Homo sapiens: one gene and its partners. The protein of the gene in region 2 interacts with the protein of the main gene of each other region in a biochemical or structural test. Each region holds a gene or a part of one and is shown on either strand. Other genes may lie near its edges.

Region 1 (3,754 bases), on a different chromosome or scaffold from region 2:
CTTTCCCATAGAAGGTTAGAGGTAAGTGGTTATATACCTGACATTGAGTGTTTAAGAACACTCCAACTGAGCAGACAAAGAAAACTCCAAAGCATCACTTACAAACAAGGGAAATAATCAGATAGAATATGACAATATATGAAAAAGGAGGAGGGAAGGAAGCACAGAAGCTACAAAACATTACAAACATAAATTTGATTGAAGCTTGTTGAAAATTATTCAGTGGCTCTCCACTATCTTCAGTTTAACAGTATAAACTCTTCAGTATGATAGATCCGATCAGATACAATGTAATCCCTGTCTAACAGATCCAGTCTAGACTCTCCCTGCTTTCTGTTTCAAGCCCTATTCTTAGTCCTGTCAGAATAAACAAGCTGCAGTTTCCCCAGAGCATCCTGGTCTCTCACATCCTTCCAAGCTGCTCCCTTTCTGCTTCTTTCCTTTCTCAAGATTCAACTCAAAGTGCAGTTCCTCTAGGATGCTTTCCCTGACTCCAAGCAACTAGGCAAGTTATACTATTATGTATGACCGTCATGCATATGCTAACCCAAAGCACCCTGGGCTTCCTAGTATCATAGCATCTATCACACTTTGTACTGAGTAGAAATTGTGGCAGGTATCTGTTTATCTGTCTTTTCTCCTCCATTGTGAGCCCCTTGTCAGCAAGGATGAACCTTACTCATTTTTACATTCCTAGTACCTAACACGATACCTAGCATACAGAAGGTGCTATAGGACCTGTGATTTAAATGGACTGTATTAAACAAATGTGAAGGATCCCTAGCAGGTATAAGTATTAAGAAAATGAAAAAGTGTACTAGCGTATAAACCAAGAGTGTATATGATAACATATAATAGTAAAGTTAATTAAGACTCATGATATTTGGTATTTTTGCTTTAACTAATATGCCAGCTAAGTATCATAGTACAAGGACACATAAGTCACCATCTTTGTCTTTGAAGAGCTGTGAGTATCAAGGGGGAGAGAGAGAAAGAGAGAGAGAGAGATGTAAATAGATAATGCACTGCGATAAACCTTATATTAGGATATGAGCAGAGTACTGTGGGCACATGAAAGGGAACAACTAACTTTCTGGGTTAGGCAGGACAGGAAGCACTAATTGAGCTGGGATTTAAAAGAAGAGCAGAAACAACATGCTAAGCAAAATAAAGAGAAATAAGCACCTGAGACAGACAAAAGTCATGAAGTGTCACACCACATTCAGGAGAAAGTGAGGCGTTCAGTATGACTGGACTACAGGGTAGACTGGAAGACAAATGGGGCCCAACCATAAAGCAGCCTGAACAAGCTAGGGACATGTTCCCTAGATTTGAGACTTGATCTTCCAGTTAACTCGAAGATAGCCTGCCTCTAGTGTTCCCACAATAGAATGGCATAACTCTATTGTGGCCTTTATCGTACTCTACTGCAATGTTTATCTTTCTGCACCATCCACTTTGCTGTGATCTCTTTAAAGACAGGAAATCTTGTCTTGTTCATTTTCCAGGGCACTAAGCATACCAACTTACATGGCACATATTCTTTTTTTTTTTAAATCCCCCAAGACGGAATTTCGCTCTTGTTGCTCAGGCTGGAGTGCTATGGCGTGATCTCGGCTCACTGCAATATCCGCCCCCCAGGTTCAAGAGATTCTCCTGCCTCAGACATGGCACATATTCTATAAACATTTAATTTTTTAAAAAATAGTAAATGTTTAATATTAATAAATTATAGGATGAGTAATATAAGAAATTTTAAGTAAAGGGATAATTGATAGAGACATTTTTTAAAAGTCTTCTTGAAAGTACATATTTGTTCTCCCCGACCTCCTTGTGAAATATGAAGAGCTAAAAGATTACTACAGTATGGCTTTTGCTTCAAAAGATGATGCTCCAAAGGAATGTTTTTAAACTTTTTTTTTTCTCAAAAGGAGCAGGAAAATCATCCTTCCACTTGGCATCTTCATAAGCTACCTGTTAAGGTAGAACCTCTCGTGCTGGCAGGGATATACAGTCATGAGCCACATAACAAATGTTTGGTTGGCAACAGACTACATATATGACAGTGGTTCCCTGAGATTACAAGGGAGCTGAAAAATTCCTGTCAGCTACTGACACTATAGCTATCACAGCATCACAGTGCAACACATTATTCATGTGTTTGAGATAATGCTGGTATAAAAAAAAACCTACTGCACTGCCAGTGTATAAAACTATAGCACATTCAATTATGTATAGTACGTAATACTTGATAATGATAAATGACTATGTAATTGGTTTATGTATTTACTATACTATGTATCTTACTATTATATCAGAGTATACTCCTTCTACTTATTAAAAAAAAAATTAACTGTAAAACAGCCTCAGGCAAGTCCTTCAGGAGGTATTCCAGAAGAAGGTGCAGTTTTCCTAGATGACAGCTCCATGTTATTGCCCCTGAAGACTTTCCAGTGGGACAACATGTAGGAGGAGAAGACCGTGATATGGATGATTTTCACCCTGTATAGGCCCATGCTAATGTGTGTGTTTGTGTCTTTGTCTTAGTTTTTAACAGAAGTTTTAAAGGTTAAAAAAAAATTAAAAATTTTAAAAACAGAAAAAAATCTTAAAGGATATAAAAAAATACTTCTGTACTGCTGTAGAATGTGTGTGTTTTAAGCTAAATATTATAAGAGAGTCAAAAAGTTTCAAAAAATTAAAAGGTTATAAAGTAAAAAAGTTATAGTAAGCTAATTTATTACTGAAGAAAAAATTATTTAAACAAACAGCGTAGCCTAAGAGTACAGTTTTATAAAGCCTACAGTAGTGTACGATAACATTCTAGGCCTTCACATTCACTCACCACCCACTAACCAACTCACCCAAGAGCAACTTCCAGTTCTGTAACCTCCATCCACGGCAAGTGCCTTATACAAGTGTACCATTTTTTCTCTTTTATAGTTTTCTTACTGTACCTTTTCTATGTTTAGAAATGCAGATACTTACCATTGTGTTACAACTGCCTATAGTATTCAGTACAGTGATGTTGCTCAGATTTGTTGAGTAGGAGCTATAGGCTATACCATATATCCTAGGTGTATAGTAGGCTATACCATTTAGGTTTGTGTAAGTACACTCTATGACGTTTGCGCAGTGACGAAACTGTCTAATGACACATTTCTCAGAAGGAATCTCCACCATTAAGTGATATATGAGTGGCAGTGCAACCTACTTGGGGACTCTATCCACACTGAATGTTTGAGTTCAATACAACAATAATTAATGAAATGCCTAATATGTGATATGAAAGCCTTGTATGCCATGCCAAAGAGAAAGGAATTTATCCTACACATGATGGAAAACCACTGATGTATTTTAAGTAGAAAAGTGAGACGGTCAGAAGTGCATTTTAAATAAACATATGTATGATAAATTTAAGTAGGAGTTTAGCTCAGAGGAAAGAAAATCAGTTTGAGATTATTAAAAAATGAAATATGATAAAAACCTAAAACAAGAGCAGCAATGGTAGGAATGAAGAAGAAAAGAATAAATTTAAGGAACATTTAAGAGGAAAAGTCAGTGGCACCAAAGAACTGACTTGACATAATGGAAAACAGAGGCAGTTTCCAGCATGGCAGACAAAGGGTGCCAGGGGTCTATTACCTGAGATACAAAAAACTGTAGTCTTCAAGAGGAAGTGATAATGATTTGTTCAGATATGTTAAACTGAGAGCCCAGGGAAATGTCCAAGTGCAATAGTTAAGTACATAAG
Region 2 (3,754 bases):
CCATCCTCAAGTCAAAACAGCTCTTGTGACAACTACAAACTTTAAAAAATATCCACACGTTTCTTGGTACTGATTTAAAATAAAAACCTCCTTAATCAGTTTTACCTGCTTAAACACAAAGTTATCATACTGTCCAATATAACTCCAATAAACTACTCCTGCATACAGTCAAGCTAATAATAAACAGAGGCCAGAGGCTTCATGGCAGCAAATTTAAAAGTCCTTACATCAAGGACAAAAAACCAAACACCGCATGTTCTCACTCACAGATGGGAATTGAACAATGAGAACACATGGACACAGGAAGGGGAACATCACACCCTGGGGACTGTTGTGGGGTGGGGGGAGGGGGGAGGGATACCATTAGGAGATATACCTAATGTAAATGACGAGTTAATGGGTGCAGCACACCAGTATGGCACATGTATACACATGTAACTAACCTGCACATTGTGCACATGTACCCTAAAACTTAAAGTATAATAATAAAAAAAAAAGTCCTTACATCAAATCAATACAACATTTAGGGGCTCAGATTTTCTTTGAAATCAAAACAAGAGAGGTAGTTTGAGAGTTTGCTATCTTCACTGATCCTCTCAGGAATGTAAAAGTATGCATTAAAATTTCAACCTAGCACTGCTTGAGTTTTTTAAAGCAATTTACTTCTACCTGGACAAGCAGTAAGGCAAGCCAAAGTAGCTGGGTTTTCTGTGACTTCTCAGTCTCCAACCTTTATGGTCACACTAACATTTCACGTTTCTAATGCTCCTAAACATAATTATCTCAAAAAAAAATTCAAACCACAACTGAATTTAAAGGAAGGGGGGCACTTTGCGTCACTGATAGAAAATGATTTAACACAATGAACTTAGAACTGGGTTTTTTCTTGTAACCATAGTAAGGGAGTGAAGATCAGAGAATTTAAAACTGTAACTAGGCTAGTCTCCTCACCTTGCAGTATCTCACCCTATCGGGTAGTCGTTGAAACAACACTGAGAAAGAAAGGCTCACAAAATTTTGATTTACACACATGCAACTTAATCTTGACGACACGTAAGTACCCACTGCACGTCCCTGAAAACGCATCGACTTGATTCTTAAATACAACCCCTATGTCTAATATACTGGCAGTGCAGATACACTACGTGAACACAACGGGGATGGAGGTATATCTCAGAGAACCAGAGGCGTTAGGCCTGCTGGTAATCAAAACGGACAGCTAACTGAAGAAGTCCCGTTTTCTATCCCCACAGCAAACTGAGTTAACTAAGGCATCACTTGGAATCCTCAACTCGCAACCCCAAATACACCCAGACTTAAGGATGCAAGGCCCCTACAAAGCTCTCAGGAGGCGAGTCTCTCGTCCACACCAGGTGCACCTACTCTAACCCTAGCTTCCTTCTCGGACCCTACTCTGGCCCCTCGGCTCCCCGCACCGCCATACCTGGGGGCGCCCCCAGTACTGCATCCCCTTGCTTCGCCCCCACCCCTATCACTTCGTCACTCACCCTGAGTCACCGGAGCCGCCCGCCCGCCCAGCCCAATCCGCCCACAACACCTCCAGCCCCTCACCCTCCCCTCCTCCAGGCCGAGTGGAGCCGGCCTGTCCCCTCCCGCCCACCGCCCTGTCCCAGGACACTCACCCGCGGTAGTAGGCTTTCACCCGGACCTGGTGGGAATGGTCCCCGCTGCCGCCGCCTGCGACCGTGTGGGACATGGTGCTGCTGTCCCTCTGGGTCGGCATCTCCTCACTCCCCCGCCTCAACGCTGGAGGCCGGGGGTGCGGGGGGGCGCTTCGGGCGCCGTGGGGGACTCCGCCGCCTGCGCTTGCCGGAGAACCGCGGCCGTCCGCCCACCTACCTGCCCACCTCGCCCGCAGCGCCGACCCAAGGGTCGCCTCGCCGGAGCAGCCGGAACCGCGCGGCTCCTCCCACTGCCCGTAGGCGCCGCCGCCTCTACAGCCGCCCGGGCCCAAGACACCTCCTGCGTCGGTCCCTCCCACTTCGCTCGCTCCAAAGGCCCACATTCCGGGGTAGGGCGGGCGCAACCATCCAGCCAGCTCAAGGAGCCTCAATACCGGGCTGAACCATCCTTACGGGGGCAGAGAAAGGGGACAGAGGGAATGGGAGACGCTGATCATGGCATCAAACACGCCGAGAGGGGTGCTTTCACGCGAGCTGTGAAAGAGACAATGACCAGCTCTAGATCACTAAAGTCTCTTCCCTGCAGGGACAATGGTAGGGACAAATTCTACGACACCTCACCCTAGCCTCGCAACTTGGTCACGTCTGCGGTCGGCCGACTTGGCACCCGGGATAGATTTGCGTGCAGGTTTCTGGGATTTGGAGTCCTCATAGGATTCTGGGACTTGAGGTTCCTTGCGCGTAGGGTGCCGCGCCTTCCCGCTGGTGAAGTCTGTCTCTCCAGCGTGCTCCCTGGAGCTGTCGGGGTGGAAAACCTGGATCCAGCTTGGGCATCTGAAGGTCCTGGAAATGACTGGGCTTCCTCACGTTCTAGACTTTATTAACTGATGAAGTCTCCCTTCTTCTAATTGCATAAATCGTCTGAATTATACATGTCTTTTGGGGGAACAAGAATTTGGTTACCTGCTCAGCATAACCTCTTTTATGGAAATAATTTAATAACATATGTAACAAATATAATAAAGGAAGAAACTCAACCAGAAAATATGATGAAAAACCGATTTTTCTTCTTTGGGGGCCCCCATATCTAGGCCCTTGTAGACTGCCCTTGCATGGAACAAGAGCCCAATGAATACTTACCCAATCAAGTCAGTCAATCCAAGAGCATTTCATTCTGTAAAAACTGGCTTACCAAAGATTAGAAAGAATCGTCCTTGGCCGGGCGCGGTGGCTCAAGCCTGTAATCCCAGCACTTTGGGAGGCCGAGGCGGGCGGATCACAAGGTCAGGAGATCGAGACCATCCTGGCTAACACGGTGAAACCCCGTCTCTACTAAAAACACAAAAAATTAGCCGGGCGTGGTGGCGGGCGCCTGTAGTCCCAGCTACTCGGGAGGCTAAGGCAGGAGAATGGCGTGAACCAGGGAGGCGGAGGTTGCAGTGAGCCAAGACTGTGCCACTGCACTCCAGCCTGGGCGACAGAGCAAGACTCTGTCTCAAAAAAAAAAAAAAAAAAAAAAAAAAAGAATCGCTCTTGTAACCTAGTCTTTGACTTTCCTAGGATCTTGGCTCTGACACATAATTTACACTGCAACTACAGGTAGCATGAATCCAGCCCCTGCAGCAGTCCTGGTGCTGAAAGAGTTGGAATAATCAAAGAAATAGCTTTCTTTACGATGATAAAATAGGCTTGGGGGACTGAGTCATCAGTTATGTGTGACACTTCAGCGTGGTACGACATCCTCCAACTGCTACAGACTTGGATTATATACTCTTACTAAAAATTCCCCTTGAGTCAGGCAAAGTGCTACATGCCTGTAGTCCCAGCCTTTGAGAGGCTGAGGCTGGAGGATCACTTGAGCCCAGGAGTTCAAGGCCAGCCTGAGCAACATGGTGAGACCCCATCTCTTAAACAAACAAAAAAATCCCATTGAAAAACTTGGTATCAGGTTTTTCAGTAATTGGAGACCTGCATCAGCAAGTTTAATACGGAGCGATTAATTATGGAATATATTATAAAATATACGGGCACCTGTAATCCCAGCTACTCCGGAGGCTGAGGCACGAGAATCGCTTAAACCCAGGAGGCAGAGGTTGCTGTGAGCCTCTGAG
Region 3 (3,138 bases), on a different chromosome or scaffold from region 2:
AGTTATATCTTCAGGTTGTATCCTGAAGGTTTCTCCACTGGTCCATCTCCATTCTCCTTGTATCTCCTTGGTTTTTTTGTTACCATGTGGAGGAATCCCAGAGTGAACTCTTCCCTGCTCAGAACTTTGAAGGGTTAGTTAGATTGCTATGAAGTGGCAAGCTGCTGCCATATATCCCCTTCCTTGGCCTTTGCTTACAGGGTGATAGCACACTCAGATAAGAATCGCATGACACCCCACAACCTGGGAATTGTGTTTGGACCAACCCTGTTTCGGCCAGAGCAGGAGACATCTGACCCAGCAGCCCATGCTCTCTACCCAGGGCAGCTGGTCCAGCTGATGCTCACCAACTTCACCAGCCTCTTCCCCTGATGCAGGGAAGGAAGAAGAGAAAACATATTTCCGGTCATCTCTGGTGGTGAGAGGCTGGTGTTCTGTTTTGAGGATATCCCTTTAAATCTCCCAAATGACTGTCTCTATCTTCATGAGTGTGACTTGAGGTGTTGGGATGGGTGAGGGAGCTTCTCTAAAGAGGAAAGTGAGTGGATTAACCCCTGCTTCTCTTCTTGTTCCCTGTTATCATTCCTCCCCAACATAATAATACATAAAGTGGCATGGTATTTTTTCTGATGCAGTTCCTTTATTATCAGGAAACAGTGTCATTATCAAATTTCTCCTCAAAACGTATACAGACTATACATAGCCCCCAGCCCATACCTCCCATCCCTGGGGCATCTTGTGCATGGGACTGCAGCTCCCCCAATTTTTCTGGAAGGATAGAAACCCCTTAGGAAATGCGATCTGTGATGGATGAGATTCCCTACTCTTTAGGCACTAGAGTTGAGGAATTCTGTTTCCCCAGGTAGGGATCTCAGTAAGACACTCATGTTGCCCACAGCCATGTTGGGGGGCCCAGAGGGAGGTGGGGTATGTCCAGAGCTGCCCCGCTGATCATGGGAAGGAGGAGGACTCAGCCCCTGGGGCTCATCCAGAATAGCCACAAAGTCCAGCTGAGTGTTGTCAAGATCAAGAGAGTCCAGGGGGTTACATACCTGTCCTTCGGGAGGAGGGTACAAGGCAGGACCCCCTCCTAGCCTGCCCACCTCAGGATGACCACAGCTGGGGTTTGTGCCTCCCACTTTGAGAGGCCCATAGCAAGTGGGCAATGGGGGCAGAAGTCGAGGTGGTGCTGCTGCCCTATGTGAAGCCCTATTTGCCCCCACTACAAAATTTTCATGGCATGGTGAAGGGGTGGGATAGGAACCTGACTTGTGATTGGGCAAGTTGGGTCCAAAGCCAGGTCCATATGTGTTCACTGGAGCTTTAGCACGGCTTGGGCTAACCTGGGAACCCCCCAGAAACTTGGGACTCTGGTAGGAAGGTTCCTGGGCGGGGGCATCTTCCCTGCCCCCACCCTCCCACAGTAGCTCCTGTTGAGATTGAACATAATTACACACAAGCTGAGCCTTGAGCTGCCCTGTGGAATGGGTGGGGGAATCAAAGTCCAGGCAAGGCCTGGGTTCTGAAGGAAGATAATCAGGGGGTGGCTGGGTATAGGGGCCTGACTGGAGATATTGGGGAGGAGAGGGCTGGGGGTAATGGGAAAAGAGAGGCTGTGGATGTGGGGGCCCCTCACTGGGGTGGGCATTGAGGCAGGGTGCCAGTCCTGTGGAGTCAGACCCCACTGGGCACCCCTGTTCTGGCTTGACTTGCACTTGTCCATAATGTTCAAGTCGAGGACACTGGCTGTAGGTTCCACCTAGAGCCTTGGGGCCTGGGTACAGCCCAGAGTGGGAAGGGAACTCACCCCATGTTTCTTGGGTGGGGTCAGGATATGAGGCCTGCTGGGGACAGGGGTTGGGGCCATAGTTGGTGGGTGGACCAGGCCCAAGAGGCAGAGAGCCTGGACCCCTCGCTCCATAAGGCTCAGCTGCTGCCCCTTCAGGTCCCCCATATCCCAGAGTATCAGTAGGTGGGAAGTCCATATAGGGGTTCAGACCACTGCCCACCATGGAGGTCCCAACTTCTGGCTCTTCCTGTAGCCCTCTAGCATCCATGGCAGCATTCTCAGTGATGCTGGGGGGCTGTGGTGAGTAGACAGAGGTTGGGAGGTAAGGATCAAAGTTCTGTCCTCCCCCTGCCACAGTGGGTGGGGTATGGACACAGCCCAGGCTCTTGAACCTCTGGACTCTAGCTGGAGCAGGACGGTCAGCAGCCTGGGCTGGGTCACTGGCCCTCCGGGTGACCCCTGCATTGGGGTTGTATCCTGGATACTCGGCTCGGCTTCTCCAAGGAGGCATGGGAAGACCACCTATCCGATCCAGGCTGGATGCTGCAGTGGGCGAAGTACCACCCCCTCTGGCTGAAGCATATCTTGCCCGAAGCAGGTAGTGCTGGGCAGGCATAAGGCCAGGCAGGGAGGATGCTCCATTCTCTGGTGGGGAGCCAGGGGGGAAAGGAGAGGCCAGGGAGGAGCGGCGGCTGACAGTATAGGCAGAGCTGATGCTGCTGGAGCTGCTGCTGCGGCGTTCAAGAGAGACTGGGGGGCCCACGCGGCGGGACACAGTGGTACCTGCAAGTGATGGGGAGAAAAGGTAGGATGGTCAAGGAGCTTCCTAAATTTCACCCTGCCTCCTCCATGCAACAGCCTTGCCCTGGATTCTCAGGGGTAAGCTCGTTATCCCTAACCAGTCTGTTCTGTCTCCTACTTCTCCCATGCCTATTCTGTTTCTGGGTTACCAAGGATTCAGGGTTGCTATGAACAGTTGTGCAGGTTGTGTGCTGCACAATCCTAGGGAACAGCATTCGCATCATAGCCTTTGCATACTTGTTTGTTTGTTTGTTTTGTTTTGTTTTGTTTGAAACAGAGTTTCGCTCTTGTTGCTCAAGTTGGAGTGCAATGGCGCAATCTCAGCTCACTGCAACCTCTGCCTCCCAGGTTCAAGCAATTCTCCTGCTTCAGCTTCCTGAGTAGCTGGGATTACAGGTGCCCACCACCATGCCTGGCTAGCCTTTGCATGTTTGTACATCACAACTATTTTCTGATAAATGGAAAGTGTCTTGAGGAAGGACACCATTTTCTAATTATACAAAAGTGCTGTGTGACAGCCCTCAAGGGTGACTTCCTCCTCTCAACCT

Evidence for each region.
Region 1: the proteins of PRKCI (region 2) and FRS2 form a complex in vitro, tested with the Homo sapiens proteins (one study listed by BioGRID).
Region 3: of the proteins of PRKCI (region 2) and GLI1, one has a biochemical effect on the other in vitro, tested with the Homo sapiens proteins (one study listed by IntAct).

Annotation. Positions count from the first base shown.
Region 1 is NC_000012.12:69,564,417-69,568,170, reverse strand, and holds part of FRS2 (fibroblast growth factor receptor substrate 2), read right to left. Parts: exon of another isoform or gene 1,531-3,754; intron 1-1,530. UniProt on the Homo sapiens protein: Adapter protein that links activated FGR and NGF receptors to downstream signaling pathways.
Region 2 is NC_000003.12:170,220,660-170,224,413, reverse strand, and holds the start of PRKCI (protein kinase C iota type), read right to left. Parts: upstream 1,991-3,754; 5' UTR 1,745-1,990; coding exon 1,644-1,744; intron 1-1,643.
Region 3 is NC_000012.12:57,469,751-57,472,888, reverse strand, and holds the end of GLI1 (zinc finger protein GLI1), read right to left. Parts: intron 2,573-3,138; coding exon 828-2,572; 3' UTR 621-827; downstream 1-620. Other genes in the region: ARHGAP9 (rho GTPase-activating protein 9), read left to right, coding at 201-372. UniProt on the Homo sapiens protein: Acts as a transcriptional activator. Binds to the DNA consensus sequence 5'-GACCACCCA-3'. Regulates the transcription of specific genes during normal development.